3 separate regions of the Homo sapiens genome follow, and regions 2 and 3 are each linked to region 1. Evidence: fine-mapped expression QTL. Tissue or cell type: whole blood. Region 1 holds a variant in brackets; each other region holds the start of a gene. All regions are shown on one strand. Distances are from middle to middle.

Region 1 (5,151 bases):
TGATATCTTCTGAAAACACATGATTATAATGATGTTTTAGAATGATGAAAAAAAGGTTGATATTAAATATTTCTGTCTGACCATTTTCCTCCAGAAATCTTTCATTTTGTAGAATCAGATAATTCTAAATCATATATAATAGGATCAGATCATTCTAAGTCATATATACATTAAGTACACTAACAGCCTCCAAATATAAGAGCAGGATGTATATTTGGTTCCAAATGAACAGCCATTTTTATAGGCAAAGTGTTTTTTTTTTTTACTCTTCTACTCTTTTGGGTTTTTTGTTTGTTTTTTGTTTTTTGCCTATTGGCTTTTTCTTGTGTGCTTTAGTTTAGGTCTCAAAAAATTAGGAATGGAGTAGATGTGGTTGATAACTCTTTTGTTTTCTTTCACCTTCTCATATTCTAGGAAATACTGAGACATTAGTTTACATAAAATTAATAAAATTCAGTGGTTTATACTTTTTCTTTTTTTTTTTCTTTCTTTCTTTTTTTTTTTTTTAGATAGAGTCTTGCTCTGTTGCCCAGGCTGGAGTGCAATGGTGTGATCTCAGCTCACTGCAACCTCTGCCTCCCGGGTTCAAGTGATTCTCCTGCCTCACTCTCCTGAGTAGCTGGGATTACAGGCACGTGCCACCATGCCTGGCTAATTTTTGTATTTTTAGTAGGGGCAGGGTTTCACCATGTTGGCCAGGCTGGTCTCAAACTCCTGACCTCAGGTGATCCTTCCACCTCAGCCTCCCAAAGTTCTGGGATTACAGGCATGAGCCACCATGCCCAGCCTATAGTTTCATTTGAAACAAACATTAAAACACAACTCGATTCCATTTTCTAAAAATAACTTCATGGAATGTATTTATTACTGATACATGAATAGGAAATGTGTTAATTTTGTAAGAAAATAATCTATCAAAAATTACTTCCTACCTTATAGTACTTCTAGTTCTAAGTAAAAGTTTAAAAACATTTGGTTAGGTGAAAGAGGTTGTTTGTGGGGAAAAAGAAGTAGAAAATATGAGAAGACTCTTAAGCAAATAGGTTCATAGGCAGTCGCCTACAGATTTGCTAGGGCAATAAGGAAATTTTAGCATTCATTACTTAAAATATGTTTTAATTTTAATTAAATTTAAATTACTTCAAATATAAATGCTAGGCTTAGTCCTTAATGTCCATCTCTTCCATTTTATTCATGTATTATTTTTCTTGAAAAAATCCCTTATTCCTTTGGCTTTGTAAAATTTTATGAATTTGACAATGATGCCTAGTTGAAGGTGGTTACCACCTTAAACAAGGGAGAAATCCATGAGTTAGACAAATTAAGTGACTTGCTGGTGTTAGAGCTAGAACTTGAACCCCAACTTCTGGATATACTCTTTCTAGTCATGCAGAATAAGAATAGAAATGGGAATAGTTAGGTCATCTCAGAAAGGACAAAAAGATTATCAGTATGTATATAGGTAGTATGGATAAACAAGGAACACTTGGATTGGCAAGAAAGATTTCACATAATTTCCATTTTACTATGCCACAATAAGAACATAAGGCTAGGCAGTTTGTAATTGCTTTGTGAATACACAGTGAAAGAGTCTATTACCAAAAATGCCCTACAAGACATACAGTATGAAGGACAGTTCAGAGTTTATTTTATTTTTTAATTTTCATTCTTCATTGAAACACTTTGTCTTTTCAAATCTTTTCCTCAGAGAGACCCTTCGAGAAGTGCTCCATTTACTGAGAAGCACAGGTAACACCCAAGTAGAATACATGATCCGGATCATGAAGAAATGGGCCAAAGAAAACAGAGTGTCCATCTAAAATAGCGCCAGCGTCCTAGGAACCAGCTTCTACTTTGACATAAAACTGGAAATCATTTTCACTCCAGTTTAATCTGTGATACAGGGCTCTGTTTTATTGACATTTTCCTTCCTTGCTCTTTAAGCCTCAAGGTCAGAGACTGACTTGCTGAGACTTAGTCTCCTGGCTGAACAGAGTGCCATAGTCTGTGACCCTGTATGATCCTAGTAGCAATAAGATTTTGGACTTATCTGGTGC[C/G]TTTCTTCCAAAAATGCTCAGAGTACTTTTATGCAATTTACTGACTTTAAGGAAAACAGTATAACTTTTTTTTGTTAGCATTTTATGGCATTGTCTCCTGGCTGCAATAACAAACATCTTTGATGTTCAAGAATCAGCATCATTGTATCATTTAACTTTAAGGCGTCTCTGTACGTTATCCCATTTTATTGGGGAATTCCATAAAGGGTTTTATAACGTCATCTCTGAATCTTGGGAGAATAACTAGCTATGTGTTTCTAAGAAAGGCAGTAAGCTACTTTATCAAACTGTCCAGTCATTAATAGGATAGATTTATGGGATTACTCTTTCAGTAATTAAATTGTTGATGATAATAACATGTTACAGCGCAGTAAGATGAGTATTGCAATGTTTTAAAAGGTGAGTACTATGAAAAAAATTGTAGTACCTCTAAAGGTATTCAAGAAACAATGTTTATGAATCTCACTAGTCCATTATAGTTTGGTACCATAATTATTTTAGGTAACAAAGCAGGTTAGGTTTTTGTTAATGTATCTTGCTTAACAAACATCAGTTTTTGTTGTTGTTGTTGTTGTTGTTGTTGTTGTTGTTTTTGAGACGGAGTCTCGCTCTGTCGCCCAGGCTGGAGTACAGTGGTGCGATCTCGGCTCACTGCAAGCTCCACCTCCTGGGTTCACGCCAGTCTCCTGCCTCAGCCTTCTGAGTAGCTGGGACTACAGGCACCCGCCACCGCGCCCGGCTAATTTTTTGTATTTTTAGTAGAGACGGGGTTTCACCGTGTTAGCCACAATGCTCTCCATCTCCTGACCTCGTGATCCGCCCGTCTCAGCCTCCCAAAGTGCTGGGATTACAGGCATGAGCCACCGCGCCTGGCCCAAACATCAGTTTTGAAAGTAGGGCTACAGTGATTTATATGTATTGTGGGCACTTATTAATGTAACGATAATAAAACATGAATCGTATAAAGTCCTTTGAGGGAATCTCCTAATGGCTAGGCTCTCTGTCGTAAGTCATATTCCAGCCCCAGGCTTCTGAGCTCTTATAACATACAACTGAGCATTCTTAAGCTCACAACCTATTTCCAGAAAAGAGACCCACATCTTTCTATGTTTTATACTACCTTTGTTTTTACACCATATAGTTTTTTTCTATTAGTTTAAGGTACCTAGTGTTACAGGTCTAGAAAGTGCAGAGCCATCCCTACCTAGAAGAGAATAGATGGGAAGAGAACTGAAAGAAAGAATTCCTCAAGCACTGAAGTCAGGAAAATCCCCGTAGGCACTGTATTAGTTGTTCCATTTATCCCAGCACTCCACTTGTGGATGAAGGAGTTGTATAGAAAGGAGATGAGAAAATGGCAGGAGTGGAAGCAGCCAAGAAGAGATCGATGACTGAAGATCTCCTTCACCTTCAGGACTGTCTCAAGGGGTTATTTCACCTCTACTCATGAGGATGGCCAGTTTTTCTGTCTTTTATCTTTAGACCCATATATAATCAGTTCAGAGCACAAATCAAAATAAACTGGCCTAAATAACTGAATTCTAGGAAGCAAAGCTACATCTTTTTTCATATGCCAAAGCTTCTGTTTCCTCATGTTGTTCCTACTTTTTAAATAATAAATGGCTCTCAGCATCTTAGGAACTAGATGGGTCCCATCTGGGTAGAACCTGCTATAATTTTTAGAATCACTCTTGTAATTCTTACCTCACTTAAAATATTAGGAAACACAGTAATAGAAAAGACAGGGAGAACTCGTCTGCAGGTTTTGGCAGTGAAATTTGTCTTCCAGTGAATTGCTATTATTTTCAAATTGCCTATAGTCAAAAAGCTTTTCCATTGATGGAGACTTACTTTCAAATGAGCTTGTGTTGAATTCAGCACTCTAGATTCTCTCTGACATTTTCCTGTCTTTTGGGAAAAAAAAGCAGATATTCCAAAAATGGCAGAAATCTAATTTTTGTAAACTTTTTCATCTATAGGATTGAGCCAAAAAACATACATACTATTTTAAAGAAAGGTACCATCTAATTCTTTTATTAAAGATAGCTACTTCTGAAATGTCTTAACAGAGTTTCAAGATTGCAAAGTAGTATTGCATAGCTGGTTTTCTTACATGTGATGATGGAGGAGAGAGGAAGACCCAGACTTAGGCATGTAGTGAAATATGTACAGTTTCTGGCATCAGTGTACTATTTATAGTCTATAGCATACATTACTTGCAAATGGGAAAAGTATTTTATAATTATTTTTGTACCTCAAAATAATTATTATATTCTACTGTATTATATTCAAATTAAAGTTTATTATTTGATTCTTAGTATGATATTCTGTTGAGTGTGATGAGGGTGGGACCTAAGTATGTCATGTGCCTTCTACCCTTTCTTTCCTAGCCCTAGAATGAAAGGAGAGAAAGTTTTGGGCCCCATAAGTTACTCTTTAGAAGAGAGAAAAGTACATATTCCCCAAGAAGCCCTTTCCACTAAGAGGCTGGTAGTTCCTGCTGAATCATACTAGGCTTGGCTCTTTGCTGAATTACAGCCCATTCAGAAGTTATATGACCAGTGCATAGTGTAGTACCTCACACATAGAAAGCTCTCACATACTTGTTGACTGAATAATTAAACATACAGTAACTGGTAGGGCAAGTGACTTGTGAAGTCTAACCTCATATATTCAGTTCCCATTGAATTATTATTTTATTGTGTGCTAAGCATATGCCAGGTACTTGGGCTGCAAAGATAAATAATGCACAGGCCTGACTCTCAAGGAACTCTAACAGAAGTATACACAACTAAACACAACAACGTGATTGATATCATCAGTGGGAATAAAGTATTGAGCAATAAAAGAAGGCAATGGAATGTTTGTATCCGTGTAAATGAGATGCCCCCTGCCTCATTTGGGAGAAGCAATCAGAATGGATCCCAAAGCTCAACAGCTAGCAAGATGCCCACAGCTCTGCCATGTGTGCCACACACATCACATGCATCCAAGTAGACGGAAGCCAAGGGACTGCTTTCCTCCTCTGTGGCTTAGTGCACTTTCAGAAAGGTGCTAGCAAACAGGCATGATATCACAATAGTTACATCTACTT
Region 2 (5,151 bases), 56 kb before region 1:
TTCACTTCTTTTAGCTTCTCATGTCACCATCTCTAGATGTAACAAGCTAAATATTGCAACTCTTCTTCCTTCACTTTCAGATGAAACACCACACAATTGCATAACTCTAACTGATAAACTTGTTTTCTCCTAGGACTGATCTGCAAGAGACTTTTCTTACTTAGGCTAATGTTGTTTGGTTTACAGACGCATGTTATTTAAAGGATGAATCTGGAACTTACTGTAAAGGTTTACGCAATAGTGTCTTTAACAGAAGAAATAGAAAGTGCTTACCTTCCAGAAGCCACTTAGATTCACTTCTGTCTTTGTACCACAACTGTGTATTGAAGATGTCATTTGCCATGTACAGGCCCTAACCAATTACACACAAAAGGCCCTAAATAACAGCCACATGAATGTCTCATTATTAAATAATGAAGTTACTGTCATGAGAAGACTGTATTACAAAACTGTATGGTCTTAGACATACTCACTGCAGCCCAAGGAGGAATCTGTGCTATGACAGAAACTGAATGCTGTGTTTATATCCCAGATGAATCAAATAACGTCACCAAATTAATAACTGATTTGAAAAACTCTAATAATTAACCTTTCGGATCCAAAACCCTCTCTAAGCTACTGGTTAAGTAATTGATTTGGATCTTGGGGAACTTGGTGGCAAAAGCTGTTATGTATTTTAGGAATTATCATAGTTTGTGTTTTGTCTTGCCTTTGTCTGCAGAGCTGTTATGGTATTTATCTGCAATTGGGTCAACACACAGCTGAGAAAATGTGTAGAACAAAGACTACTCAGAGAATTGTTTGATTGAAGAGGCAGCCGTGTAGCCTGAATCAGGTTCCAGAACTACTTTCTCTTGTTGCTTTATAATTCGGACTTGGTCCTTTCCAATTTCCCCTCCTCCCTGGGATGTGACTGCCAGGAAGGGGCCTTCCTAGTGACATGAGGTTTGATCAAATACACGGCCTGAGAATATAATTCTTCTATAATGCTTTCTCTGAAAGCTTTTGAAGAAAAGGGGAAAATGTGAAAAGAAAATTTCAGCACTTTCCAAACGTACTATGCCAAGGGGAAAAGTTAAGCCCTGTAAACTAAATCACAGAACATGGCTGTTTTTCTTCTCTGGTGCATGACTGTTGCTTCCTGATCTTTGTGTTGATGTTATATATTAACCAGATTTTTTATTCTTTATTCAGACTAAATGACGTTGGAGATAGAGACCCTTGTGATTGTTACCTCTTTACAATAGAATATTAAACAACCCCCTTACAGTGTAATCAATAGTAGTGAATTGAATCTTCTGTGTACGTTAGCCTCATCTAGAAAATGCTGTAATTACGTACAGCACTCCTGTTTTTGGTGATATAAATGACCCTCACCTTTCCCTGCATCAGGGAGCACTGATCACCATTCTTTGCTGTCAGTGGTTCCCGGGATAGCCGCCCTCACACTTTGCACTTGAATAAACTCTTTCAACTGGATCCCTGAGCTTTTTGGTTATTTTAGGCTGACATTAGTTAACTAACAAGATGTTAGTTCTTCAGTCTGTTAATTCTGAGGGGTTGACCAGAGGTCCTGTAAGGTCCCTTCCAACTCTAACATTCCACGATTTCGTGAATTTAAAGACTGTGGTTGCCCCTGTATTAACTGGGTTCAGGAGTAAGATAGATAAATTAAGTCATCCAATCGACAAATATTTATTACAGTTCTCTATTGTGTGTAGGTGTATCTGTGGAAATAGGAAACTGTATTTTGGTGCACTCCTGCTTCCAAATCACAGAACTACAACTCCTTCAGCAGAAATTTTCTAAGCTTCCCGCACCAGCCAGAGACCAAGATTCTGCGGTGCACATAGTCAAGGGTTGCTATGGAGTCCAACACGGCCCCAAACAGAAGTGGTCCCTGAAAATTTCTTTCCCAGAAAACTTGCATTTGAAAAACAATGCCATTCCAATTCGCCTTTTCCTAAAGTAAACTCATAAATAGAGACAACCAAACTTTCGCTCTCAGCCCAGAGAACGACGCTCTCCTCCCAAGAGGAACCTCGGCTCTTCCGCGGCAGAAGCTGCACGGAACCAAGAAGCCGCGGGCGCTGGTTCTCCAACGAGCTTTTCTCCCGTTCGTACCAGCGTCCAGGCGGGGTTACCGTGGAGACAGAACGTGCTGTGTGGATGCGGCGAAACGCTGAGGCGCGGCCTTCGCTGTGTGGTGGGGACTCACAAGACCGACGTCAAGATGGTTAGTGGCTCTGAATAGTAAGGGAGTACTTTGAGTAGGTCCTGAGGCTGGCGATTAGAGGTTCCCAGCACACTTCTGTGTGAAGTCTAGGTGTGTCCGCAGAGAGTAATCCCCAGCTCTCCCTGTGTTCCCACGGGGGACAGGGATGCAACTGTAAATACCTCGGTGCTTTCTTCCCTCCTGCTTTTCCGTTTACTCACATTTAAACCACTCGTGGGATGGGAAGCAGAGGAAGGGAAAGCTGAGATGACAGAAGCAATGCGAAAGCATCTCTAGCCAGAGAAGATAAAAGTTGGGAGTAGCTGTTTGGTCCTTCCTAAGTATTGGCTGATGGCTCTTCTAGTAGAATACCTGTTACAAAACGAGTTTGAATAGGCTTCCCTGGGGTTCGTTGTTAAGGATTTGACTTATAATTTTTTTTTTTTTTTTGAGATGGAGGCTCGCTTTGTCGCCCAGGTTGGAGTGCAGTGGCGCGATCTTGGCTCACTGCAACCTCTGCCTCTAGGTTCAAGCGTTTCTTCTGCCTCAGCCTCCCGAGTAGCTGGGACTACAGGCGCATGCCACCACGCCCGGCTAATTTTTGTATTTTTAGTAGAGATGCGGTGTCACCATATTGACCAGGCTGGTCTCCAACTCCTGACCTCGTGATCCGCCGCCTTCGCCTCTCAAAGTGCTGGGATTACAGGCATGAGCCACTGTGCCCGGCCTTGACTTATAAATTACAGAGCTGTCACTCTCAGTTTAAATCTGATAATCAGAATTGGACCATACAGCTGTCTTTGTTTCTTTTACAGATGCTTTCAAGGGCCAAACCTGCTGTAGGCAGAGGCGTACAGCACACTGACAAAAGAAAGAAGAAAGGTAGGAAGATTCCAAAACTAGAGGAGCTACTTTCAAAAAGAGATTTCACTGGAGCTATTACCCTGTTGGAGGTAATGCCCAAAGAACGTTGCTTCTTAGTGTATGAATACCAGACTGTAGATGAATGCTTGGGTGAATGCTGTTTGCTATGCTCTTGAAATAGGTGGGTGCATTCTGGGGCTTCCTGTACAAATCCCCTGTAAATCTAGTCAGGCACAGATTCCAGATTCCAAGTTAGCTATAAACCTGATAAAAAACGAACTAAAAAACTAAACTTGGCCGGGCGCGGTGGCTCATGCCTGTAATTCCAGCACTTCGGGAGGCCGAGACGGGCAGATCACAAGGTCAAGAGATCGAGACCATCCTGGCCAACATGGTGAAACCCCGTCTCTATTGAAAATACAAAAATTAGCTGGGCATGGTGGCACGTGTCTGTAGTCCCAGCTACTCGGGAGGCTGAGGCTGGAGAATCGCTTGAACCCGGGAGGCGGAGGTTGCAGTGAGCCAAGATCATGCCACTGCACTCCAGCCTGGCTACAAGGCGAGACTCCGTCTCAAAAAAAAAAAAAAAAAAAAACAAAACAAAACTTATTTCTTGAGGGCCACTTTTGAGTATGTCTAGTTCACCAACAGTGATTACAATCTAAAAATATGAAGGGACCTTTTATACAATGTCATTTCACACATTGCTTATCCCAACCCTTGACCAATGTATGATTTTTTCCTATTATGTGTTCTAAAATTTTGATCAAACTTAAATAATTCTAACATGCTTACGGTTGAAAATATAGCCCCAGAAAATATTTCAAATCTCCATGGCAGTAGTTCTCACCTTTTAATATACATTGGAATTACCTAGGGTACTTAATAAGATATCGATTCCTGGGCTCCTGCTGTAAGTCTGCAGAGGTGCTCAGGAATCTGCATTTTAAGGTGAGTAGTCTAAGTGCTTCTGATGGAGATGGTCCCAGGAGACTGTGCTTTAAAAAACTGCTTTGTGGGAAACACATGTTATAGGAGGGTGAAGGGTTGCACCAAAGAATGAAGAGTTCTGACAGCATGGTCTGGTTGTGTTGTACCACACTCATTTCTCTTAAAATGCTACTCTGTCCATATTACTCTGAATCTACCCTTAATAATTGTTATAATTAGGTTTACATATATTTCTCCATCTTCCACAAATAGTTCACTTTCTTTTTTTTTTCTTTTTTCTTTTTTTGAGTTGGAGTTTCACTCTTGTCACCCAGGCTAGAGTGCAATGGCGCAATCTCAGCTCACTGCAACCTGCACCTCCCTGGTTCAAGCAATTCTCCTGCCTCAGCCTCCTGAGTAGCTGGGATTAGAAGTGCCTGCCACCATACCTGGCTAATATTTTGTATTTTTAGTAGAGATGGGGTTTCACCATGTTGGCCAGGCTGGTCTCCAACTCCTGGCCTCAGGTGATCCACCTGCCTCGGCCTCCCAAAGTGCTGGGATTACAGGTGTGGGCCACCGCGCCCGGCCTAGTTTGCCTTCTTACTAAGTACTCTGGTGTTGAGCGTGTTTTTTAGCTTTTTGGGCATCAGCTTTCTCATCTTTACAGTGGGGGAGTTGGCATGGAAGAACCTTCTAGTTCTGTGAATCAGTGGACTGAGTGCTATGTATATATCTATTTTCATCAGTCTGTTTTCCTCTTTTTTCTCTAAGACAATGACCACATTTTCCTTGTTGCATAACACCAGGTTGCCTTTATTTTATTTTATTTTTGAGACAGGGTCTCATTCTGTCACCCAGCCTGGAATGCAGTGGCGTGATGGTGGCTCACTGCAGCCTCAACCTCCCAGGGCTCACACGAGTCTCCCACCTCAGCCTCCCAAGTAGCTGAGACTACAGGCACGTGCCACTATACCTGGCTAATTTTCGTTTGATTGGCTATTTGTGTGTGTGTGTGGAGACAGGGGTCTCACCATGTTGCCCAGGCTGGTCTTGAACTCCTGGGCTCAAGGGATCCTCCTGCTTCTGGCCTCCCAAAATGCTGGGATTACAGGGCCAGACTGCCTTTAAGTTGGCAGGGA
Region 3 (5,151 bases), 81 kb before region 1:
TTTTCCCTGAAAATAAAAGTTGGATTTATAAGACAATCAGGGAAATTTGAATACCAACTGGACAATAGATGATATTAAAATTGTAATTTTTTTTACAAAAATGTGATCATTGTACTGTATTATGTTAATAAAACATAGTTCTTATGTTTTAGAGATACTAAAGTACTTAGTAATCAAATGGTTGCTGAGATTTGCTTTAAAATAACACATTGGAGTTGGGGACACATGGGGAATAGGGAGAATAAATGAAACAAAACTGGCCATATTTTCAAAACTGTTGAAATGATGGGTACAAGGGGCTTCATCATTTTTTTCTCTCTACTTTTGAGTATGTTGAAAATATCCATAGTAAGAAATAAAAAAATAAAAAGCATATGTATTTCATACTAAAAATCAACACTAGTTGGTGAAGAATTTGTCATAATAGAAAAGATAAGAACAGAAAAAACATAACAAAGCCTTCCAACCATGTTATTTGGTGTAGTGCTAGAACATGCTAGAATGTTCCTTCCTTTTCTATCCTCCACCCTCTGCTCTCTTCTCCTTCTCAGAGATTTCTTCAGTGACCAGCAATGACTTAGATGATTTCCTCGATACCCATAACTCCCAGCAACTCAGAAACAACCTTCAAATTGTTGCCCCACAACATATTAAAGAAAATTTTAAATAAAGGAACACATTCAAGCACTTTTTAAAAACGTTAGAGTGAGCTGAAAGGGTTTTTGCTCTAAAGAAATTTTTAAAAAAATACATTGCGTCCTCTACCTCATCCATCTAAAACACTTACCTTTGTGTGTTTTATTACACGTATATTGGGGGTGAGTGACTGGAGTTTTTGTTAGGTGCGTGATCAAAAGTTTGCCGACTGGTCGGACTTGGTGGCTTATGCCTGTAATCCCAGCACTTTGGGAGGCTGAGACAAGTGGATCACCTGAGGTCAGGAGTTCGAGACCAGCCTGGCCAACATGGTGAAACCCTGTCTCTACTAAAAATACAAAAATTGGCCGGGTGCGATGGTGCATGCCTGTAATCCCAGCTACTCGGGAGGCTGAGGCAGGAGAATCGCTTGAACCTGGGAGGTGGAGGTTGCAGTGAACCGAGGTGGAGCCACTGCACTCCAGCCTAAAAAGTTTGCTGACAACCATTTTAAACCCTGGGACACAAGTCAAAGTGTTTAAGAATGGGCCAAGTGTAAAAAGTACTGTATCGAGAAAAGTAATTGAGCAGAGCACATAGTGACAGAAAGGGTGGGAGGAAAGACTGGCCATTCATTAATTCAACAAGGCGTTCATTCAGTTCATTCAGAAATTAGATGGGAAGGCAGAATCCGCCAAGAAGGGAAAGAGACTTCACAAAAAGGACTTGGTGATGACAGATTGTGAGGAGGATTAAAACCCTGCCTGGGGGAAAAGATGAGTTTGACTCCATGGACAGGACACACGCGGGAGAGGAAGGGCTTGGGATCAAGGGAAAGGCCTGGGCAGCGAATGTGGACCTGGAAGCCATCTTTTTAGATGTGCAGCTGTCCTCGAGGGAGCAAGCTCTCTTAGGGAGAAACTGGGAAGAAAATCACTCAAGAGTCTTAACCCAAACCTTGCAGCGCATCTGCATTTAGACGAAAAAAAAAAAAGGCAAACGGAAACAACAGAAGCAGTGGCCCGAGACGTGAGCCACACTGCTTCAAAGGGATTTAAGAGAGTTGTCCCAAGGCAGGCGGTCAACTGCGCGCGCCACCGTAGAGAGACCACCCGGAGGGAAGGCCCGCGGCTGCTACAACTTCAGGAACCTGGAAAAGGGCCACCCCTGCTACGCGCCAGGCATCAGAAAAGCGGTGATGAGGGGCATGGGGGTGACCGGGAAGGGAGGGACAAGCAGAGAGACCTGCGGCTCGCTCCGGCGGAGACGGACCGGGGGCCCAGGGCGGCTGGGTTACTGGCTCCGCCACGTCTAGGGAAGGAGGTAGTAGGGAGGGAAAGACTCAAGATACCAAAGACGGGAGGCTCTTTCCTTCCTTCCCAAACCTGCCTACCGCTTCTCTAGGCCCTGGCTGGCTCCAGAGCACTTTATTCTTCTGATTCGTGCGGGCGGGCGGGGAAAGGGGTGGAGGTTGAGCCTGGTCTCCTCCAGGCACTAGCATTTTAGCCATTCTCGAGAAAATGTCTGGAGGTGCCGGAAGGAAGGGAACTGCAAAGGTAGAAGCGCGGGCCCTGCAGAGGCTCCCAGAGGGGAGCAGAGAAGGGAGTGGCTGGAGGCGGAGGCTGTCAGGTGCGGGGTCCCGGCGAAGCCGTGCCCCTCCCAGAACATTGCCCGCCTGGACAGTCCACCCCGACCACGGCTGCGGACAGCGCCCCTCCCTCCGGGTGCACTCACCGCTCGGACTGCGAATAGTTGCACCGGCCCAGCAAGTTGAGTTTGCAGAGATGCAGGTTATCGCAGGGTCTCTGGCAGTACTTGCGACGGCAGACCCGGGCTCGAGTGGTGGCCACCACCGATCGGGTGATCCCGGCCTCGCCGCCGGTCTCCAACACCACAAAGCGGTCGGGCCCGGCCACCTGCAGCACCTCACAGAGCTGCGGCTCAGACAGCGCGATCTCCTGGAGCAGCGCGTCCAGGGCCATGCGGCCCCCGTGGGCGCACAGGATTTTGGTGATGAAGCAGCACACCTCCGGGTCCGCCATGGCGCGCTGGCTGTGCTGGCTCTGCCGCGGCGCGGGACTCGGTTCCGCGGAAATCGGAAATCGAAACTTACAAGTGTCCAGGGGCGGGCGCGGGCGGTGCTACTGCTGGGCGCGCCCGGAGTCAGCGAGGGCGCGCTCTCCGTCGCCGTTAGCCCAGCCCAGCGATCCACTCTCGGCTCTCAGGTCAAGAGGCTAGATCTCACCGACCGGGTCCTAGTGGCAGGTTTACAGCCGGCCGCAAGGGCAACTGGGTGGAAAGAAAGAGAACGCGCGGGCAAATCTGCTGGTGACCGCCTGGGGTGGCCCCCTCTCGGTTCTAGGCTCGGCGAGGGTGAGGTTCTCCAGCCGGGCTCCGCGAGCCTTCTTTAGAAAGAAGAGAAACTAAAAGCGATCTTGGGGCTCTGGCCGGTGTTTTATAAGCCAGCCGACTGAGGCGTGTGACGCAAGTCCTGAGAGCCCTGTTGAGGAGTGCGCACCCCACCCATTCCCGGAAAGAGCAGACCCTAGCGAGCGCTTCCTGCGAGCCGTGCGCTCTGCCTCTGTTGGTAGTGAATCTTCCCAGCAACTCCACATGGTAGATATTATTATCCTCACCCTGAACTTGAGGAAGTAACTTGCACGAACACGCACTGGCATCAAGCGGAGCCCAGATGCCACCGAGTTTCCCCAAATCGCGTCCCCAGGCCCCAGATCGTGGTACCCCAGGCCCCGATGTGCAAGTTTCTCCTCCACCACCGTGCCCTCTTAAAGAACAACGATTGCCACTCTCCCTCGTTTCTGCCTTCTCACGAACTTTTGGACAAACCACTTCTTGACATGGTCTTGCTTACCTAGAATCGCTAACTCGGTGCCCTGAACCACTGCTTGTACCTCAATCACGGTGGACATGCTAAGACATATCCCAAGATTTCAGATCGGTTCCTCCCCGTAGAGATTGGGACAAGAACTTTTCCACCGTGGGGACGTACTTTGACCCCCAGAGTTGACATAAAGATTGTTTTTAAGTGAAAACATTGAGCTACAGAAGATGTAGAAAGAAATCTTAATGAAACTTCCCTTATCTGACTAAAGCAAAACCTCCCGAAAACATGGTGCCATTAAAAGCCTCTCGGAGTATTCAGCTGCCAGGAAGACAGACTGTCCCATTACCATTAGCACCAAAAAACCCAATGGGCTGGGTGCTGTGGCTCAGCCCGTAATCCCAGCGCTTTAGGAAGCCGAGGCAGTGGGAGGATTGCTTGAACCCAGGAGTTCAAGACTAGCCTGGGCAACATAGTGAGCTCTCTTCAATAATAATAATAATAATAATAATAATAATAATAATAATAATAATAAAAACAACCCGGGCATGGTGGTGTGCAGCCGCAGTCCCAGCTACTCGGGAGCCTGAGGTGGGAGGATTGCTTGAGCACGGGAGGAGGCTGCAACGAGCCGGGATTGTGCCACTGCACTCCAGCCTGGGGGATAGCGCTGAGACTTTGTCTCAAAAACACAAAACAACCCAATCAAAACTTCCAAACTCTCCTACTGAAGCCCTAAAACTTTCCTTTTTGTTAAGTTGAGGTATATAAACCTTTACTTTTGAGTTTTCTGTTACTGGAAGCTCCTGCATGCATGTGTAAATAAACTTTGTCTTTTCTCCTATTTATCTGTCTAGTGCCAGTTAATTTTTAGGCCCCCAAAGACAGGACACAAGTTGAAGAGAAAAAAGGTTTTTTTTTCCAACATCTTCAAATAAAATAGATGGGTCATTTGATCAGATAAGAAATACATCTTTTTAAAAAATAATAGATTCTGGTTGCTAACTTAGAAATTCTTCAAAATGATTAATGAGAATTCTCCTCAGTTTTGTCATTCATGGTATATAAACCCTCTTTCAGGAATAGAGTACTTTGTTATGAAAACCAGCCAAACATGGGGGCCACATAGGATCATCTTAGGATGTCTAAGAGGGACATCTTGTTCCCTCTAGTTGCTGCTTCTATAGTTGTCTTTTAATCCACTTGGCCTTATTTGTGGTCTGACAGGTTCCCAGGGACCTTTTATTATCAAATCAACTAAGTTCTAGATGTTTATTGACTATCTTCTATGTGGTATTTACATTAGTTAGTAATGTAAGGACATGCAGAAGTTTAAAAAACAGTCCCTGCACTCAAGGAGCATGTATGCGAAGACATGAAAAAATGCATGGAAATATAAGCAAATTCATGGGTAAATGCCACAATGGGAATATAGAAGATGAGAGACTGAAGAGTCTAGTTTGGCTACAGTGGTTGGGAGTACAGACATAGAATCTCCTCCAATTTGAAGCCATGAAAAATGATTTAAGGGCCAGGTGCAGTGGCTTGTGCCTGTAATCCCAACACTTTGGGAGGCCAAGGCGGGAGGATCATGACCATCCTGGGCAACATACTGTGAGATCCACCTGGGCAACATAGCGAGACCTCATCTCCACTAAAAATAAAAATTAGCC

Evidence for each region. PIP is the estimated chance that this variant, and not a neighbour inherited with it, causes the effect.
Region 2: it holds the start of IFT56, and the variant in region 1 is fine-mapped to the expression of IFT56 in whole blood (INTERVAL, PIP above 0.99).
Region 3: it holds the start of ZC3HAV1, and the variant in region 1 is fine-mapped to the expression of ZC3HAV1 in whole blood (INTERVAL, PIP 0.91).

The regions. Positions count from the first base shown.
Region 1 is chr7:139,187,613-139,192,763 of GRCh38, forward strand. IFT56 (intraflagellar transport 56) reads left to right here. Exons shown (of 18, transcript NM_024926.4): 18 at 1,709-4,374. The coding sequence ends at 1,820. Among named protein-coding and RNA genes, the nearest start is that of UBN2, 41 kb to the right of the region's middle. The variant C/G (reference allele first, on the strand shown) is at 2,058.
Region 2 is chr7:139,131,625-139,136,775 of GRCh38, forward strand. IFT56 (intraflagellar transport 56) reads left to right here and starts at 2,154. Exons shown (of 18, transcript NM_024926.4): 1 at 2,154-2,236; 2 at 3,031-3,168. The coding sequence starts at 2,234. RefSeq lists enhancers at 1,979-2,273, 1,991-2,170.
Region 3 is chr7:139,106,654-139,111,804 of GRCh38, forward strand. It overlaps ZC3HAV1 (zinc finger CCCH-type containing, antiviral 1), which reads right to left and starts at 3,067. Exons shown (of 13, transcript NM_020119.4): 1 at 2,371-3,067. The coding sequence starts at 2,678. RefSeq lists enhancers at 1,966-2,095, 2,676-2,775, 2,720-3,223, 3,016-3,175.